Regions from separate parts of the Homo sapiens genome. Here all the other regions are reported to be linked to region 1. The links are microRNA targets in miRTarBase. Many come from high-throughput screens and were not tested one by one. Region 1 holds a microRNA gene; each other region holds the end of a gene's coding sequence.

The links. Region 1 holds the annotated microRNA hsa-miR-1269a (CUGGACUGAGCCGUGCUACUGG, at 3,433-3,454, shown strand). A microRNA usually pairs through its seed, bases 2 to 8, with sites in the 3' UTR of a target mRNA and lowers its output. Matches are read on the target gene's strand: a 7mer-m8 pairs with bases 2 to 8, a 7mer-A1 pairs with bases 2 to 7 and ends in A, and an 8mer does both.
Region 2: the mRNA of CACNA2D3 is a reported target of hsa-miR-1269a. Seed matches in the 3' UTR shown: 7mer-A1 at 1,474-1,480.
Region 3: the mRNA of OR6A2 is a reported target of hsa-miR-1269a. Seed matches in the 3' UTR shown: 7mer-A1 at 4,867-4,873.

Annotation. Positions count from the first base shown.
Region 1 is chr4:66,273,458-66,280,175 of GRCh38, forward strand. It overlaps MIR1269A (microRNA 1269a), which reads left to right and starts at 3,367; the gene lies at 3,367-3,471.
Region 2 is chr3:55,072,838-55,079,555 of GRCh38, forward strand. It overlaps CACNA2D3 (calcium voltage-gated channel auxiliary subunit alpha2delta 3), which reads left to right. Exons shown (of 38, transcript NM_018398.3): 36 at 608-720; 37 at 940-1,022; 38 at 1,277-1,720. The coding sequence ends at 1,369. Among named protein-coding and RNA genes, the nearest start is that of LINC02017, 100 kb to the right of the region's middle. RefSeq lists a silencer at 6,546-6,718.
Region 3 is chr11:6,789,711-6,796,428 of GRCh38, forward strand. OR6A2 (olfactory receptor family 6 subfamily A member 2) reads right to left here. Exons shown (of 2, transcript NM_003696.3): 2 at 2,026-6,174. The coding sequence starts at 5,998. The coding sequence ends at 5,015. OR2AG1 (olfactory receptor family 2 subfamily AG member 1) reads left to right here. Exons shown (of 2, transcript NM_001004489.3): 2 at 1-1,848. Among named protein-coding and RNA genes, the nearest start is that of OR6A2, 6.6 kb to the right of the region's middle.

The DNA.
Region 1 (6,718 bases):
ATTTTGTAGAATTGCAGGTAATAAGCACTTAAATTTAATAATCAAAAGAAGCATTGCCAAAGTAATCCTGAAAGTAGGACTTCACTAGACAAAATTATACATTGACTGCCAAAGTCATCTCAAAATTAACAGTAAATTTCAGATACTTAATGAGAAGCATTGAAGTTCTATAACAAATTTGAACTTAATGAATCCAGTGACCTGAATTTAATTCAACATGTGTATTCATGTTTTCTCATATGAGACACATTGTCTTAGTATTTTGGAGGAGCTATTGGCAGTCTGTCTTAATTTTACTTTACTTATTTTGTTCCAGTAGGATACACCAATCCTTTGATGAGTGGGAATGTTTTTGGATAACATTTTATTCCTATCCATTCAGTTCACAAGAATGTAGAACTTCATCTGGCCCTTGGAAAGTGGGGAAGGTTGTGTAGGCAGAAGAAGGGTCAAATCATTTTATCTTATATTTTTATAGCTTTTGTTTGAAAAAAATGATATGATGACAAATAGAAGCAGAATACTTCTAAATATTAAATTAAAATTTTGAAGAGACACTGAAGCTATTACATTATATTTAAAATGCAGTTGTGCAAAATTATATTTTTAATCTACCTAATTATTCATCTGTTGTGAATATAGCTATCTCAAAAATTATAGTACTGTGTTCTATAATATCCAGATGTTCCAAATAATGATTAGAAGTAAACATGAGTACATTTTTGAAATATGTCTTTAAAGGGCTAAAAATTGAAAATATCATAAATAGGAAATACATAAAACCATTTTATAATATGCTTTATGCTTGAAAGGTGAATAGTAGGTATAGAAAATTATATGAGAAATTTCTACTGCTTAACTAGTTCAAAATTTAAAATGCAAAGCCTACATTTATTATAATTAGGTATATTTATAATGCACCATTTTCTGAAAGTCATGGTAACAGTATATAGCCATAATTTATAAGGGAGTAATCAATAATTTCTGATAGGTTGAACACAGCAAAATCAATTAGCATCTATATAGAAACAAAAATTGTTTTTCTGGTATGCATTTCTAAACAGCTTTAAAGACTACACGATGAAAATGCACTTCATGGAATTGTTCGTCCTTACTCAAATTCAATTCCAGTTATGACCCTGAGAGATGATTAGTAAATTCAACTTTTTAATTAGCATTTTGCATAATTCATTGAAATTATAATGCACTCATGCATTTGATTGTCAAGGTGCAGATGTGCTAATATGAGGCTATAATTTTCTCATCTAAATAACACTTTTAGTAAAACCTCCAATTTCTCACAATTCTATTATATAAGACCTATTATTGCTCATTTTTAAAAAATGAGTTCAGTTGGATTTTGAAGTCAGCTTGTATTGTTACAATGGATTGCTCAGGATACTAAGGACCAAAATAAACTAACTTTTTAAAAAAAATTATTTATTCCATTTTGGTTAATACTACTTGATCACAGTTAAAACAACTTTTAAATGTACCAAGTAGACTTTATGGATTTATAAATTATATCCAAATAGACCCAAATAGAAATTATAAAATAAAAAATTAAAGGGATGCTGTTTTTTCATTTTATTTCTCTGAAGAAGTATGGGCACAATAATCATAGACTCTTCACCACAGGATGTTCCGGTGAAATTAGCGCTAAACCAAAAACACAGGCTTTTATTTAATGTGTGGTTTCATGAGATGAACCTTGGTACTTAAAAAAATAATTGATTGATATCTTTCTCAAAGCTTCCCAAAGTTTTCCCAAAGGTGTATCTATTTACATTGAATTTTAGTGCTTGTTTTCATATAAATCACAAGCTCCTATCCACTGGGGAGCTTTGCTTCATCAACTCTATAGAAAATGAGAAAAAAAGAAGTAAAATATGGAATGTGGCTGTTCAAAGAAATGGCAGGATGCACTAGAACATTGTTTTCTTTCTGTACACCAGACAGATTGTTAGAATGAATTAAATGTTTCCAAACGAGGTGAGAGAACTTGCAAACCAGAATTCCTGGCCGTGAGTCCTATTTACAAATGAGGTAAACTGCCTGGAATCAAGCAACCAAACACGTGATGGTTGCTGCCTACTCTGCCAGCATAGATGTTTGTGCTGTCGGTCCTGAGAACACTGGCCAGCAAAATTGCTATTATTGCAAACATGTGTGGCAATGCTGAATGAGATTTCTAAGGAATTGTGTGGTAGAATGAATATTAGTGTTTGGGACAAATGCTTTCTTAGGACATAATTTAAAAAACACTTCCTACATTCCCAAACTCTGCTGTACAGAATGTTTATTACATGGATAGTAGTATAAAGAGACCACTGTGTTACTCCTGGCATGGCCTACATAAGTCCCTAGTAGGCAATCCCTCACAGCAATTTTATAGCATCTGGCTCTAGGTAGCTCATAAAACAAAGTGAAGCATTGCAGTCATGGCAATGCTGATGAGCTGAGATTGGCTCATGTTGAGTTCCACTGTTGTACTTCCAAGTGGTATTATACTGTGTCTCATGATTCTTTCATGCTAGGAAATTTTTTTTGTCTTTACTTATTAATGTTTGTATAAAAGATTGAAGTGACTGGCATATTTGTTTGATAATACCTGTGTTAACTTAAAATGTAGTGGATGAAGGTTCTAAAGTTCCCAGAAATTGCCAAGCATTTGGAAATAATCATTTTAAAAATGGTAATGTGGAATTTTATTTTCAGAGGCTATGAAGGTTACTTCTAAATAAGAAAGAATTTGATAAAAACTATGCTTCTCCCTCCCCCAAATCTGTTTTCATGTAAAAGACAAATAAATGATGACTTCCCCCACCCCGCAAAAAAAAAATTTTTTTTTGAACTATGCTTCACTAAGACCTTAAGTGTAAGTTTACAATCCTAAATTGTATCTTAGGTGGACTTCCTAATTGAATTATTTGTATCATTTTCATGCATACATTCATTACTTTTAACTTCATTCAATGATTTTTATTTTTAATAATTATGTGAAAATCAGCAATGGTTAACTTTAGGTGTCAACTTGACTAGATTAAGGAATACTTAGCTGGAAAAGTATTGTTTCTGGGTGTGTCGGGGGGGGTGTTTTTTGAGGAGATTGATATGTGAGTCAGTGGATTGAGTGAGGAAGATTCTCCCTCAGTGTAGAAAGGAACCATCCTATTTGGGGTTCCAGATGGAAAACAAAGTCAAAGGAAGGACAAACTATTGCTCTCTTTCTTGCTTCCAAAGCAAGAGGCTCTTCTATTCCTGCATTTGAATATCAGAACTCCAGTTCCTCCAGCTCTTGGACTCTGGGGCTCACAACAGCAGCTCTGTTTTGGGGCCTTTGACCTGGGACTGAATTCATACCACTGGATTGCCTAGACCAGGGAAGCCAGTTGGCATGGCTCAGTCCAAGTCTGACCACCTGAGGAATGCCTGGACTGAGCCGTGCTACTGGCTTCCCTGGTCTCCAGCTTGCAGATGGCCTATCATGAGACTTCTCAGCCTCCATAATCATGGGAGCCCATTCCGCTAATAAATCTTCTCTAATGTAACTATCTCCATATCCTATATGTTCTACCTCCCTAGGAACCCTGACTAACAGTCATTAACCTTTAACAGTACATTTCAAACGATGAAGCTCTTCGGATTCCAAATATACTTAAGAAGACTTTCTAAATACCATTCAAATGAAAAGATAAAGCCAAAAATTTATAGTACCACTTAGAAATGAGGCCGAAATTTATGGGACATCATTGTAATATTTTCCTGATGAATATTTCCAGAAAAAATTTCATTTAAGGAGTGATTGCATTTTAAAAAGAAGATGCATGGAAGGAACAATGAGGATAACATGAAACACACTTGCAGCATATTGTGGTGTATATAAATTATACTCCCGGACACTTCCTAGTTTGGTAACAAGTTTCATGTTCTCCAAGTTTCCTGTTAATCAGCAATGTTTGAAACAATTTGGTTGCTTCACTGTATAATGTTTCCAAGAAAACTAAAGCCTCACTAATGTACACATAGCTCTCAAAAGAAGACGTGTATATGCATTAGATTCCACTGTGGTTATATGAGCATCCTAGGACATTAAAAAAAGGAAATTACATAGAGAAGTCTCAGTGTGCTACTTTTTGAAGTCACGAAGAGCAAAGTAGTCTTCAGATTGACACGTGTGCACCATATCTGAATGATATAGTTAACTCCATCAGTCCTGTTATTAAGTTTTTCAGCTTTTGATATTTTTAATAAAAAGATTAGTCAATACTCTAATATTGTTCACTTTTTCACTTCATTTTTGTTTTGGTCATATGGTATTGAGAAGGATGAAGTTTTAGGTCAATCAATGGGAAGATAAAATAAAATATGAGGAGGAACAAAGAAATGCACAGAAAATTCCCAGCAGTTGATGAAGGAAAAAGTAATTGGGAAGTTATTCATAAGTGGTTAGCATTTCAGAAATCTCTGTGGCATTGCTTACTAACCCACATAATAGATGAGATTAATAAGTATCCTGTTAATCAGCAGCAGCGCTATTATCATCATTAATAATATAAATGTTTTCCTTTTCTATTTCTTTTTCTTTTTTAAAAACTTTTAAGTTCAGGGTTACGTGTGCAGGTTTGTTATATAGGTACACTTTTGTCATGGGGTTTTGTTGTACAGACTATTTCTTCACTCAGATATTAAACCTAGTAACTATTAGTTTTTTTTTCCTCATTTTCTCCCTCATCCAACCCTCCACTTTCCACCTTCCATTATGCCCTATGTGTTGTTCCCCGCTACATGTACATATGTTCTCATCATTTAGCTCCCTTTTATACATGAGAACATGTGATATTTGGTTTTCTATTTCTGCATTAGTTTGCTAAGAATAATGGCCTCCAGCTCCATCCATGTCCCTGCAAAGACATGATCTCATTCTGTTTTTTTTTATGGCTGCATGATATTCCATGGTGTATATGTACCACAATTTCCTTATACAGCCTATTACTGATGGGCATTTAAGTTAAGTTCATTTCATGTCTTTGCTATTATGAATAATGCTGCAATGAGCATACTCATGCATTTGTGTTTACAATAGAACAATTTATATTCCTTTGGGCATATACCCAACAATGGGGTGGTGGGACTAATGGTAGTTCTGACTTTAGGTCTTTGAGGAATTGTCACGGGGTCTTCCATGATGGCTGAACTAATTTACACTCCCACCAACAGTGTATAAGCATTCCTTTTTCTCCACAACCACATCAGCGTCTGTTTTTTTTTTTTACTTTTTAATAATAGCCATTGTGACTGATGTGAGATGGTATCTCATTGTGGTTTTCATTATCATTTCTCTAATAATCAGTAGTGTTGAGCGTTTTTTAGTATGATTGTTGGCCACATGTATTTCTTCTTTTGAAAAGTGTCTGTTCATGTCCTTTGCCCACTTTTTAATATTCACATTTGCCGGAAAATCAGGTTTGGGGATAAGATAAAGATCATAAAATACATATTTAATGTGCTTAAAGAAATAAAATTTGAAGAAAGAATTCATGGATTGAAACATTAAACAGAAAAAAATTGTAGCAAAGATAAATAAAAATGGATAACTTGAAAAAAGTTAACAAGACATGTAGATGTCTTAATCTGTGTCCCGTTGCTAAAACTGAATACTGCAAACTGATGATTTGTAGGAATAAATGTTGATTTGTTCATGGTTCTGGAGATGGAGAGTTCAAGAGCATGTTTCTGGTATCTAGTAAAAGATTCCTTGCTGTGTCAGAACATAATGAGGGAATCACATAGCAAGAGGCCAAGAGTGTGCCCATTCAGATTTCTCTTCCTCTTTTTACAAAGCCACTAGTCCTACCACAGGGGCTCCATTCTTATGATCTTGTCTAATTCTAATTACCTCCCAAAGTCACCACTTCAAGTCAACATATAAATTTGAAGACTACATTCCCAACACATGGAATTTTGAGACATGCTTAAACCATAGAAATAAATAATAGAATAAAAGTATAGTATGTATCTAATTAGTGTCTGAGAAGGGAAGAAAATTATGTATTGGGCCACTGAGATATACTGGCTGAGAAATTTTTAGAAATGTTAAAACCACAAATGGTCACTTAAAGGGGAGTACGTTGTACATCACGCATGATAAAGCAAAAATAAATAAATAAATATAAATCTTCATATAAAAATGTGGAGATTTCAGGCCATAAAACCATTTTCAACCAATTTCTAAAATTTGATAACATAAAAATTATGTTATCCAAGCACAGTGAAATGTCTTTTTGTTTCCTGTGCTGTTTTGAACTATAAGTTATATATTTCTATTTGAAATATAAGATATGTTTCTATTTGAAATATAAGATATATTTCTATTTGAAATATAATATAAGATATATATTTCTATTTGAAATATAATATAAGATATATATTTCTATTTGAAATATAAGATATATATTTCTATTTGAAATATAAGATATATATTTCTATTTGAAATATAAGATATATATTTCTATTTGAAATATAATATAAGATATATATTTCTATTTGAAATATAATATAAGATATATATTTCTTTTTGAAATATAAAATATATATTTCTATTTGAAATATAAGATATATATTTCTATTTGAAATATAAGATATATATTTCAAAACAGCACAGGAAACCAAAAGGCATTTGAAATATATATATTTCAAAACATTAAAGGTAATTATG
Region 2 (6,718 bases), not on the chromosome of region 1:
AGATATACAGCCTTGGCTCTTTCTTATAGAACTTGGGCTCTGGGAAGTGTGGGACCTCATAAATGACTAGCATTAATCTCATTCAAAACACTGTTCCTGTATACTGGGCAGACGTTGTGCAAAGCAGTATAAGGAAGGCTCTAAGAAGTTCACTATCTCTTTTGCCATTGGTATGACATAGTTTCAGTCTATCGTTGAGGGAAGGAGGAGAGAAAACGCCACTTAGAGGAACATCAAATGTAACTTGGGGTAATGTTTAGGCTCTGGGAGAAGGAAATTAGGCTTTGAAAGTCTGACCTCTTAAACCTTGGGAACAGGTGATTCAGCCAACTCTGACTCTTGTGTTTTGTACATACAGCACTTCAGTCTTTCCAAGGTGAGTTGTATGAGCCGCATGTCGTCATAGCTATTGTTGTTTTCCTAGTGAAGCTAGGTATTTGTAAGTGAAGAGCCTCATGGAGAAAGAAGGTAACATTAGTAGTAAAATAGTCTCCAAAATTTGCTTTACAAAATATGGTAGTTGCTACCACCCAGGAGAGAAGTCTTCCTCATGGCTCTTTAATTGACGGATGGTAAATGACTGCCTCGCTACCTCTTGTTCCAACAGGTCCTTTGTCATCCAGCAAATCCCAAGCAGCAACCTGTTCATGGTGGTGGTGGACAGCAGCTGCCTCTGTGAATCTGTGGCCCCCATCACCATGGCACCCATTGAAATCAGGTATATCCTTTTGTGTGCAGGTCCACTCACTACCACGGAAACCAGTAAGGGGTATCAGTGGTAAGGAAACCTGGGGGAGAAATATTAGAGAAGGAAAATTACATCCTTTCCACTGTTGGAGAGAGAGAGTAGTTAAGAGAGTTGTCATTGCCAAATTTTGACCTCTGAAATGCAGAGTAGAAAAAAGCAATCCTTGGAAACATGCCTTAACTACAGTCAACATAATGAATCCCTTAAGTGTGAACGTCTAAAGGCCCAGAAGATCAGAAGGCGCCCAGAATCTTGTCATGGCTTCCATCCTGAGGTAAGTCTGAGAACTGTTCCTGTTTCCTTTTCCCATCAGAATCACCACGAGAGTCTCACACTGGTCAAAGAACTACAGCTGAAAAGTTCACTCATGAGAAAATAATCCCTTTCATTCAGTAAACTGAATCTGCACCATCATCTAGGTCCCAGAAGACTTCGTTCTTACGTTAGAGAGGGGGAGAGAGGTCTGGGGAAAGTTGAAGGTGTCCTGGAGTCTATTTCCGTCTAACCAACCCCTGCCTTTCCCCATAGGAGAATGCAAGGGAGTGTGGGGGTGCGCCGAGTCTCCAAGCCCAGACAGTCCTCCTTCTGCTCCCTCTGCTTTTGATGCTCTTCTCAAGGTGACACTGACTGAGATGTTCTCTTACTGACTGAGATGTTCTCTTGGCATGCTAAATCATGGATAAACTGTGAACCAAAATATGGTGCAACATACGAGACATGAATATAGTCCAACCATCAGCATCTCATCATGATTTTAAACTGTGCGTGATATAAACTCTTAAAGATATGTTGACAAAAAGTTATCTATCATCTTTTTACTTTGCCAGTCATGCAAATGTGAGTTTGCCACATGATAATCACCCTTCATCAGAAATGGGACCGCAAGTGGTAGGCAGTGTCCCTTCTGCTTGAAACCTATTGAAACCAATTTAAAACTGTGTACTTTTTAAATAAAGTATATTAAAATCATAATCTCCGTGTTTGGATTTTATCATCACTTTATTGCTAAGAACACCAACTGAAAACAATGCATGGGGGAAAAGGTCCCCATTCCAGAAACCAGGAAATGATGGCTGTTGGCAGAGCCTTTGTTCTAAAGCAGATTCTAGGCACATATTTAACAACTGTTTTTAGATGCTTCACTCACTCTCAGTTATAAAAATATTTATAGAAGTATATCAAAATATCATCTACATGGGAAGAGTTTATTACATAGAACCGTGAATTTTGTTGAACTAAACTTCAATGAAAATCATAATTTGGATGCAAACACAAGCTTTCATCATATTCAAGTGGTGAATTATTTGGGAATAGAAATAAAGAAGTCATAAATCCTAGGAATTCGGTCTGAGGAGACTTGAAGGAGGAAAAGAACAATGATTACAAATTTGGCTTCTGGCTTTCCCCATAAACAAGATATGAAATTAGATCTCAAGTATGATGAGATGAAACTACCCAGACATGTAAGCAAGCATTTCTAAACGCTGGCTCTTGACCCAAAGAAAACAGATTTCACTGGATCATGGTTACTAAATAAAGTGAAATAATTTCCATGCCTAGGCAGAGTAGAGAATGCCTTACTTTATAGGACAGACGACATCTAAAAGTTATCCAGAGAATCCTACTTACTTACTTAAACTCTTTTAAAAAGGGGCACATTATCCTCTTGATATTTTAGAAAAACTGATGTCACTGTACTGCTTTATACTAAAATGATTCCACTACATTGTTTGTTGTTTGTTGTTATAACTTTTAAAATTAAATTACTATGCCTCCAGTGCTGTTTGTTTGTTCTCAACATCACAATACTGTAACAGGCAAACTTGCCAAACTTTCAACAGCCATGGAGCTATAGAATTGTGACAATTGATGTTACTCACTCTGTGCACTTGGTAAATGAATAAATTCATTTGTTGCTCATACAAATATAAAGATAGATATATTACATTTACACTGACACATTGATATCAGATAAGGAGCCACAATTTATTAAGCTGGAATGATTGATGATAAGACTCTAAACCCATAAAGTTACAAGTATAAAGACATTCTATTTACAAGTATAAAGACATTCTATTTATACCTAAGGTGATGACCAGAGGAAAATTGAGCTTAATACTGAGAGAGATGAATTTATCACAGATCTAGGTGATTTATAGGAAAATTATTTAGGTGATTTTAAAAGAGAGCAAGTTAGATGATTTATAAGAGAGAAATCATATTTTAATTAATTTTTAACAAAAATAACATCACATAACCTATGATTCTCCATTACAGTTCTTAAAAACTGGCAACAATAAGTCAAGCATATTATGTTATAATGCCCATAATTTAATGCAAATGATGCAAAATACATGTAATATAATTACGTATAATTCCACTCCCAGTCTCATTCTAAACGATGGAGTCATTTTTGTTAAACTGTTTATGGCATAAATATAGCATCCTTGAGTCACACTGCACCTCATGCCCTTGTCACGATTACATTCATGTAACTGACCCACCAGGCACCTCTGATTCGCTGTTCTCACAACAGCTTCAAGCAACTGGACCCTGTTTGTTTGTCTACTTTGAAATTGAATAATTTTCTCCAACTTAATGTGTCCTAAGCACAACTCACGATCCCCCTCCATTAAACTTTTTTCTTCCCACTGACGCAACTCCAACCCCAAACCTTGGGGCCACCCAATTTGCTCTTTCCCCCGCAACCCACCTTGCAGCAAGTCTCACGAGCTGTGCCCTTCAAACACCAAACCTGACCATCACTTTTCCCAGCCCCTCACTGCTGCCATCCTCTTCCCAGTCACCACCCCCGTCCCTGGTCTCTGAAGACCTATGTCCTCATTAGTCTCCTCTCTTCCACTGTCAGCGACCACCCAGTCCCACTCCACAGTCCGTTCTCCACACAACAACCAGAGCAGTTTTTCGGAAACAAATATCTGATCCTAGCCTTGCCCAGTACAATTAAAACAACATACACATCCCTTACTGTAGTCCACAGCAGGGGTTCTCTGAGTCTTCTGTGTGTTCGAATCACTCAGGGACCTTTCAAAAAATCTCTGGGGCAGGCCGGCCATGGTGGCTTATGCCTGTAATCCCAGCACTTTGGGAGGCTAAGGTGGGCGGATCACCTGAGATCAGGAGTTGGAGACTAGCCTGGCCAACGTGATGAAACCCTGTCTCTACTAAAAATACAAAAATTAGCCGGGCATGGTGGCAGGTGCCTGTAATCCCAGCTACTCGGAAGGCTGAGGCAGGAGAATCGCTTGAACCCGGGAGGAGGAGGTTGCAGTGAGCCAAGATCGCGCCACTGCACTCCAGCCTGGGCGACAGAGCGAGACTCCATCTCAAACAAACGAAAACTCTGGGGCAGAACCCAGGCATTTTAGTTTTTGTTAAAACTCCCCAGGTGATGTTAATATGAAGCCAGGTTGGCATCCGCTGAGCTGTGGGACCTACAGGGACTCGGCTAGACTCTGCCTCCCTTTCCCACACCATCCTGTGCTGCTCTGCCCCAGACCCGCTGTGCTCCATGGCTCTGCCTCCAAGCCTTTGAAAATGCCAGGCATGGTGCCCACTCAGGGCTTTTGTTTTTCATGTGCCTTCTGCCTGGAGGGCTCTGGACCCTGGTCTTCATGTGGCTGCTCCTTCCCAACATCCACGCTCCCTTCAAAAATTCCTTCCTCAGAGACCCCTGGTACAGCTGCTCTTCTCCCCTAGCCCCACTCCTCTGGTTTTACTTTTCCTTTACATCAGTATCTGGAATCATTTTATTTTCAGTTTCACCTACTGTATTCCAGCTCCATAGGTCAAGGACTCCTCTATCGTTCGTGACTTCATCTCCAGCTCCCAGAACAGTGCCTGGCCTATAATACAACTAAAACCACCAATAACAGTGACAAAGCTAGCACCTACTGTTTACTGTGATCTGACTCTCTCTGCCTGGTGTTATTTGAAGTGACTTCCATGTTTAACTCGTGGGATTTTCACAGCACACCTAGGAAGTAGGTGTGATTCTGATCATCATTATACACATGGAGAAATGGAGGCACAAGGGGAAAAGTCATGCTCCCAAAGGTCACATGGTTGGAAAAGAGCAGAGTTGGGATTAGAAGCCAGGCAATTTTGCTTCCGAGTCAGGGCACTCAGCCAATCAAGTACTTCGAATGGATGAATGAATTGCCAATAACTTTGTACTACAACATCTCCGCGTCTCCTACCCACTGATCTTATTGCCATCTCTCCAAACTGCTTGGCCTCCACTCCCTGCTCTCTAATACCAGCCTGCCAACTCACCTCCCTGAGTGCGGCTGCTATTCCTGTCCTCCCACTTCCAGGCCACTGTCTGCTGCCCAGCAGCCCTCCCCTGTCTTCATTTCTCCCCGTATCTCACTTAGAATACACAAGTCACATAACATTCTATGGCTACCCGAGCTGCTGAGCACATCTGGGCTGCCTAGCATACCTGGGCAGAGCAGTAAGCAGCCTGACATATTCTTTCCTGAGTCGACTTCTATCCCACTGTCCCCAACAAGTATTTCATAGTTTCTTCCCTCTCTTTAGGATATTCTAGAGTATGTTGTCTTTCTAAAATTTGCAGTAGGAGATTTCTGTATGCAATATTAATATGATTGATACCAAACATATCCAAAGGTAACTTATCAGAGAACATTTTACTAAAATGTACAGTTTATGACTAATTAATGTGATATAGTTTAATAGAGCATTATATAGCACAATTAGTTACTAAAGTTATAGGCTGTGACATTCAATATAATTTGTAACAGATTCAGAAGGTATCTATAGCTAATCATAGTGTAGCAACGTTCTTCCTAAAATATAGAACTATTTCATATATGCATGTATATACTTGTATAATTATAAAATTCATTGTATGTATATACTAGGTAAAATTCATAAAATTATAATAGAACAATTGCAATATTTATTGAGGGTAGAATACTAAAATGCAGCATAGACAAGACAATGCAATGATACCTCCATGTGTCCTAAAATTAAAGACTGGCCGGCTCCATGTGCCGTCCTTTTAGGAGCAGTATTGAAGGGAACACAGAATTAGAATAATGTAGCACACTAAAATAGGATTGTAATGGTGTCGGTAAAAACTACTATTTAATGTGTGAAGTAATTTAGGATGAGGAAATGTACATTATTATTTAAATTATGAACAGTACAGCACTGTAGAGGATAATAATATAGCTCTTGTTATAGGAGACTCTGTAGTTTAGTAAAATATTAAAATTACAGGCAGAAAGAGCACAGCTTTATTACTATCAGTATCAGAGGTCATAATAATTTAACAGACCCCTGAGGGCCATTTGCAGTGTCTGCAATTTGGAAGCTTTGCAAAGATGTCTCTAATTGGCACATATTTGCTGGAGAGTCAGCTGGGGGCATTTCTACTAATAGGACTTCGTCACACACACGCCGCTGGTAGTGACCAAAATTCCTACTGGGGGCTTTGCAGGCATCGTTTCCCTTAATCCAGTGGTTACAGACCGAGACGACTTTGCCCCAGAGGGGTCATTTGGCAATGGCAGAAGATACACTGTGGGGGAAGGGGCAGTGCTACTGGCATCTAGTGGATAGAGACCAGGGATGCTGCTACCATCCTACAAAGCCCAGGACAGCCCCCGACAACAAAGAATTGTTTGGCCAAATGTTTCAACAGTGCCAAAGTTGAGGAACCCTATTCTAATCCTTAAGGATTATTAGGGATTTTGTCTTTACAATTTAATGATGCCATTAACCTTCGGTATCCCTATTGGCATCTAAATTATGGAGGTTGACTGTACCAATGCTGGGAATCTCTTCCATAGTGTAAGAGAGTAAACTACAGATTCAATAAAATAGCAATCTAGCTACATTGTATCTTAAACTATTCAGGTGGTGGCCTCCTTGTCATCCAGGCCTCAGCAGTTTTCCACCGAACACCCAGGAATGCTCTCT
Region 3 (6,718 bases), not on the chromosome of region 1:
TGTTAGTATTATTTTTGAAAACCAAAAAAGTCAAAGCAAAACAAGTGTTGGTAGGTATGGGGAGAAAATGGAACCTGTGTACACAATTCATGGGAATGTAAAATGGTACAGCCATTATGGAAAACAGTATGGAGGTCTAAAGATTCAAACTATTACTACTGTATGATCCAAGATTCCCACTTCTGACTATATATCCAAAGGTAATTAAATCGCTGTTTCCAAGACATATTTGCACTCCATGTTTATTGCAGCATGATTCACAATAGACAAAATATTGGAAACAACCTAAGAGTCTATCAACAGACCAATGGATAAAGAAAATGTGGTCTATTTATACAATAGAATATTATTTACCCTTAAAAGGGAAGGACACTCTGTCATTTGCAATGAAATAGACCAACCTGGAGGACATTATGCTATGTGGAATAAGCCCAACACAGAAATACAAATGCTGTCTAATTTTGCTTAATGCGGAAGCTAGAAAAGAGTCTAACTCAGTAATAGAGAGTACAGTGGTGTTTGCCAAGGGTTTGGGGTGACTGTGGGAGGAAATGAAAAATATTAGTCAACAGATACAAACTTTTATTTTTAAGATGAATAATTTCTGAGGTTCCAACATATAGCATGGTGACTGAAGTTAATAAAAATGTGTACTTGAAATTTGCTGCAGAAGTAGATGTCACGTGTTCTCACAACACACACGCACAGAGGGTAAGTATGTAAGGTGATTGATATGTTGCTCTGTTAATTAGCTTGCATGTGGTCATCATTTCACAGGGTATACGTATATCAAATCATCACACTGTATACCTTAAATACATTCTAGTCATATTTGTCAACCATATCTCAATAAAGTTGGAAAAAAAAGAAAACTATGGGCAAATTATACATAATAATAAACATAAAAAATCATTTGAAAACATTTCTAAAGCTGCTTTGTCTTCATTATAGGAATGTAAAATATTACCTCTGCTGGAATATGAACTACACCCAGGATTTGAATAGTACAAATTAGATGAGACGACTTGCAGTGTAGAGCCCTCTAGGCTTTCAGCCTAGAACAGGAAGGAACGCAGAGTAATGACAGCAAACAGTGAAGCTATAGGATAATAATTCCTCCTCAGTGACAAGAGGCCCCACCACTGCTTTGGACTCCAGGAAGCACTCAGACATTAACATCTGTGAAGTGTGCCCTGCATGCTAAGAAAAGGGTGAACTGACAGACCCTTCTGTCCATCAAGTCATCCACAGCCTAGTTATTTCTGTCTCTGCTGCTAATTGTGCCAAAAGTAACCATAAAATCTGGAGTCAACTGCTAGAAGTTTTGCAAGAACAAAGGCCAAGGAGATGCACTTGTGTCTTGGTGAGTAGCCAAAGTTAGCTGCAGGGAGCTGAAGCAAGGGACTGAAAAAATGAGAAGTCTTAGAAAATGTTCTCCAGTCCTTGAGGATCTGAAGGCCTATGTGTGACTGATATTTGGTGGAGAAGAACGGACCTAGCTCTTTCCCCACTCCAACCAACCAAAATCTTTGTTGAAAGGCATATTGTGTATTGTCACTAATTCTGGGAAGGCGGGGGCCATTGGTTTTCATGAAGTGTGACTATGAAACATGAAAATCACACAAGGCAATCTTGATCTGAGGAATGCTTCTAAGAGAAAATGAATACACCTGCCCTATAGGCCCGCTTCTCTACCAAGCACACGGAGATGTCCACTTATTCTTGCTGGCACCAAATGGTGATATTCAAAAGAGCTGGCATAATTTTTTAGAGTTGCTAAGTATATAAAGCACTAACTTTATCAATTTTGTTAATTATACTTCACTTCATCTCTGTCTTATCAATTAGCTAAATAAAAACAGCATCAATTCATGAATATCATGATAATAAAAAAATTCAGGTAAATATTCAAAAAAGTCAAGTGTTAGCTGTACATATTATTGTAACTATAAAGGAAGGGAAAATATATCTTTATTTTATGAAAGCCAGTAAAATAAATCAAACTTCTCTTAAAATATTTGGTAAGGAAAAACTAACAACGTGTTTCTTTTTAAAATAAACTTCTAAATTTTGGAACAATATTAGGCTTACAGAAAAATTGCAAAGATGCTAAAGAGAGTTTTTCACACACCCATCTCTCAGTTTGTTTCTTCTAATATATTCATCCTTCATTAGCATACATACTTGTCAAAATAAGAAACCAAAATTGATACATCACTGTTAAACTATTCAGATTTTGCCATTTTATTCAGATTTTATTATCTTTTCTGTTAGTATTACTTTATGTTCCAGGGTCCAATCCAATATACCGTACTCCATATAGGTATCTTGTCTCTTTGACAAGCTTTGATCTGATATTTCTCAGTCTTTACTTGTTCATAACTGTAAGGGTTTTTTAATGAAGGGAAATAGGGTTTACAGAGCTGCAGAACAATTGTTATTTTTAAAATGCTGTTTATCAAGAAGGATTTTTGTTTCCTGATCCTGGTCAATGTGATGTTTTAGCAAACAGTGAAATACACTGGCTTATTAGTCTCAAATAAAAATTGTTAATCACAATCTAGAATTCACCTGTACAAGGTTTGTAGTGGACAAAAAATTAAAATAAGGACAAAAAGGAAAATTAAGAATGTGCTGTGAAGAAACTTAAAAGGCAGACTGAGAAATCTGGAGTTTACTCAACATTGGAAACCACTAGACACCTGGAGCACAGAAGTCATTTATATTAATCCTCACTTGCCTGTAGTTGTTAGTTGCCTCTGGCCACTCTGAATAACCCGGGTAGATCCAGTACTCCCACCTCTTGTACTGATGCAAGAGACTAGAAGCTTCTCCAGATACTGTATTAGCAAAGGGGAATTATAAAAGACTTATATTATCTAAGCAATACTTTGAAAGACCGGCAGATTACAAAGATGGTCGAAAACAAACAGGATCAAATGGAACAAGGATAAAATAAAGTTCTACATCTACGTTTATGGGAAAAATCAGTTACATAAATGGAGGATGGGGGATACTTAATCTGATAATCAATACTTCACATGAAAAAGTTTACAAAGTTTTGTGACCTCAATTTCAATATGAGTCCTGAGGGTCATATGTTCACTAAAAATTCAGTCCCCGTCTGGAGAGGTGTCAATCTCACCATAGTACATGGGACTCAAACTCATTCGTGGTTTATTGAAAGGTGAGTATGTGAGGAATACTGTGCTAAACCCTATTCCAATACTTGAAATCAGAATTAGAGGTGTTTTAAAGCATTGGAAAATAAAAGAAAAGCACAATGAAGAAATTCAACATTATGCTTTTACTTCCTATTAACTCGAGTTAACTTATAAAAGAGTTTATAAAAGAGTTGTAATAACAATGCCTAGAGGAGGACTCTCCCATCCCTGATCACAACCCCATTTCAGAAACTTCTTCTACGGGGACACTTCGACAGTAGATTTTTGATGAACTTTATATCCAGTCATTTAAAAAATTATTACAACAAGATACTTATACTGTTTAGGCACAAATAGATATGCACATTATATTAAAACTTTTAATAAGTATGGGCTAGCAAATAATGCATGATATCCTTGGTAATATCCTTTTGTAAATTTTATTAAGTAACATACAGCAATAAAGTTAGATCCCACATCTTGAGCAACAGTTGGATCCATATCTGGAGATAGAATCTTCACTGTCTTCAGAGTTCTGGTTGTCGGGTGACAGTAGGGAGCTAAATTTCTGAAAATCATACTGACATACCCTGTATCCATCTCCCTGTCCAGATAAATAAAGTTATATATAATATGGGCTAAGAAAAAAAGCATTTAAATAAATATATTGATGGCAATGCTTAGCCACAGAATGCAATTTACAGGTGTAAGCAGTCCAGCATTATCTAGCCAGCATTTTAGTCATATTCCTTCTAGTCTTGTTTAAACAAGCAAATATGGCTGATATTTTTGATACTGTTATATAACATAATATTTTTATTAAGTTAGAAATATTTTTTCTTTCATTAACTCTATTTAGATCACTTTATTTCAATTTCTGCATAGTTTTCCATGTAACATATGAGCTACAATTTATTTGACCAGTGCCCTGTTTGCGAAAGTTGAGCATATTTTGCTTATTTCCTTTCCTTGTTTCTGTATTTATAAGTAAAAGTGTCTATCTGCACAAATCTTTCCGAATCAGAATGGTTGCAATATTTTTAGGATTTGTAATACATATTTTCAAAATTTTTTTCTGGCAAGGCTGAGCCAATTTGTATCTCTCTGCATACTAGTAAAGTATGAGGGGTTTACTTCCTGCACCTGCCAACCCCACATATAGGCATGACACACATGCCTTGCCTACATGGTTCCAAACTATATTCATTCATTATACATATTCATAGCCATCATGCACTAGATACTGTTCCTGCCCATGGTAATAAAAGGATGTAAAAGAAAATCTGATCCTGTCACCATGGTGCTTATAGTCTAATCAGGGAGACAGAGTATTGATGAAACAACTGCACTCAGCCACTAGTTCAATGTGGACACTGACCACAGTAAATTTGAAAATAAACCTAGAAACCATTATGTTTTGATAGGTGATATGTTCCCAAAACAAAAATTCCTAGTTTCTTATCTCCTTGCCTTGTAACACACGCTAGAATGATATCTCCTGGGCCTCTGCTACCTAATAGAGATCTTATCAAAAAGTCTTGTGTTGCTTTTCCGTAATGAAGCCTGTGCTTCCTTGATTGGAACCTTGTCTATGCAAATTACAAAGGGACAGACAATAGTGGACCCAGCTCTATCCTGTATTTTATGGCCCTGTCCTGCAGAAATCCATTTTCTAGCTTGCAACCTATTCCTCTCTCTCCTCTTGGACTAGTTAAAGAAAGTATTCCTAGTTCCATAGTGATGCCTTTGAAACTCTGGCCCCCAATTTAGGCCCTAAGAACTCCACTGGACTTCATAGAACACATTGATCCCAAGTTTAATAGCATTTTATCAGATTTCACACATCCCTTCTATACATTTCTGCTAGCTTTCTTGGGGTCAGGATCCTGGTGCTGGTACAGGTGCAGAGTACAGCATAGGGCTCTCTTGACCTCTTGATTGCGCAGGCAGTAAATGATGGGATTGAGCAATGGTACAATGACAGCATACAGTACAGAGACCAACTTGTTGGTGTCAAAAGCTGAGAGTGCCTTTGGCCGAGCATAGATGAAGATACTGGCTGCATAGAAGATTATCACAACAGTGAGATGAGAGGCACAGGTGGAAAAGGCCTTATAGCGTCCAGCAGCCGAAGGAATGTGCATCACAGCACCAGTAATGGCCACATAGGAGGCCCCAGTGACAGAGAGTGGCCCTAGAAGAATAAAAATGGCCAGGATGAAATCTGTAAGCTCTGCTGTGGACATATCAGTGCATGAGAGGTTGAGCAATGGAGAGACATCACAGAAAAAGTGGTTGATGATGTTGGGGCCACAGTAAGAGAGGCCAGAAATAAGAAAAACTTTGACCATGGAGATGCCAAAACCTCCAGCCCAAGAGCCAGCAGCCATCTGCACACACAGCCGGCCACTGACAATGACTGGGTAGTGGAGAGGATAGCAGATGGCCATATAGCGATCATAGGCCATAACAGCGAGAAGGACACACTCAGTGCAGCCCAAGCCAAGGAAAAAGTAGAGCTGTGTCATGCATCCCTCAAAGGAGATTAGCTGTCCATGATCCTGTTTGGATCCAACAAAGCCAGCAAGCATCTTGGGAATAGTGACAGTGACATACCAGATCTCCAGAAAGGACATATTAGCTAGAAAAAAGTACATGGGTTTGTGGAGGGTAGAATGGTTCCTAATTGCCATAATGATGAGTGTGTTCTCAGTCAGCACCAACACATAGGCCAGCAGCAAAAGGGCAAACAATAGTACCTGTAGTGGCGCAGGAGCAGGGAAGCCCAGCAACACAAACTCACTCACTCTCCCACTATGGTTCCGCCACTCCATGTCATTGGTCTCTCTTACTGCTCTTCAGGAGATGAGAGTAGAGAGTCTTCAGTAGGCCACAACAAGAACCCAGCCTTTCTCTTAATGGGCTTATATTGGTCGAATACCACGTAAGGAGTTCATGTAATTAATCACTGAGCTGAGGCCACTGCTCTCTTCTTTAATCTGGAAATGAGCTAAGGCAAACATACAAAAATAAATGTTTTTTTTTTTTTGGAAACAAGATAGGAAGGAGTCTGTTCTGACCTTTGGAGAAGCATGCATTGAGATGCACTGGGGAAAAATGACACTATTTTGTCCCCAAAGAACATAGATCAAAACCAAAAAATTGAAAGAGTCTCGGCTGCCCTAAAATGAGAGTTTGTCTTTGAGTTGGATCATGACTCTGTTTTGAGGAAATAAGTTACACAATGGAGGAATAACAATCATATATAACACAATTGAGTTATTATTAGCACAGGCACTGTTATTATTGCATGCACTGCTGTAAAACATTTGCAGTATTAATTCGCTTGATCTTAACAACAATCTTGTGGGCTAGTACTACTAATAGCTACAACTGTATGCCTAAAAAAACTGAAATATAGATTTAAGTGACTAATTCTGGGTTGCAGAAATAGCAAGAGGTGGAACTGGGAAGTCAGGACCTTGGAGCTTCCAAAATATTTAGGTGATGTAAAGGAGGGACTGTACAATACATCTTGGATGTACAGCTGGGAG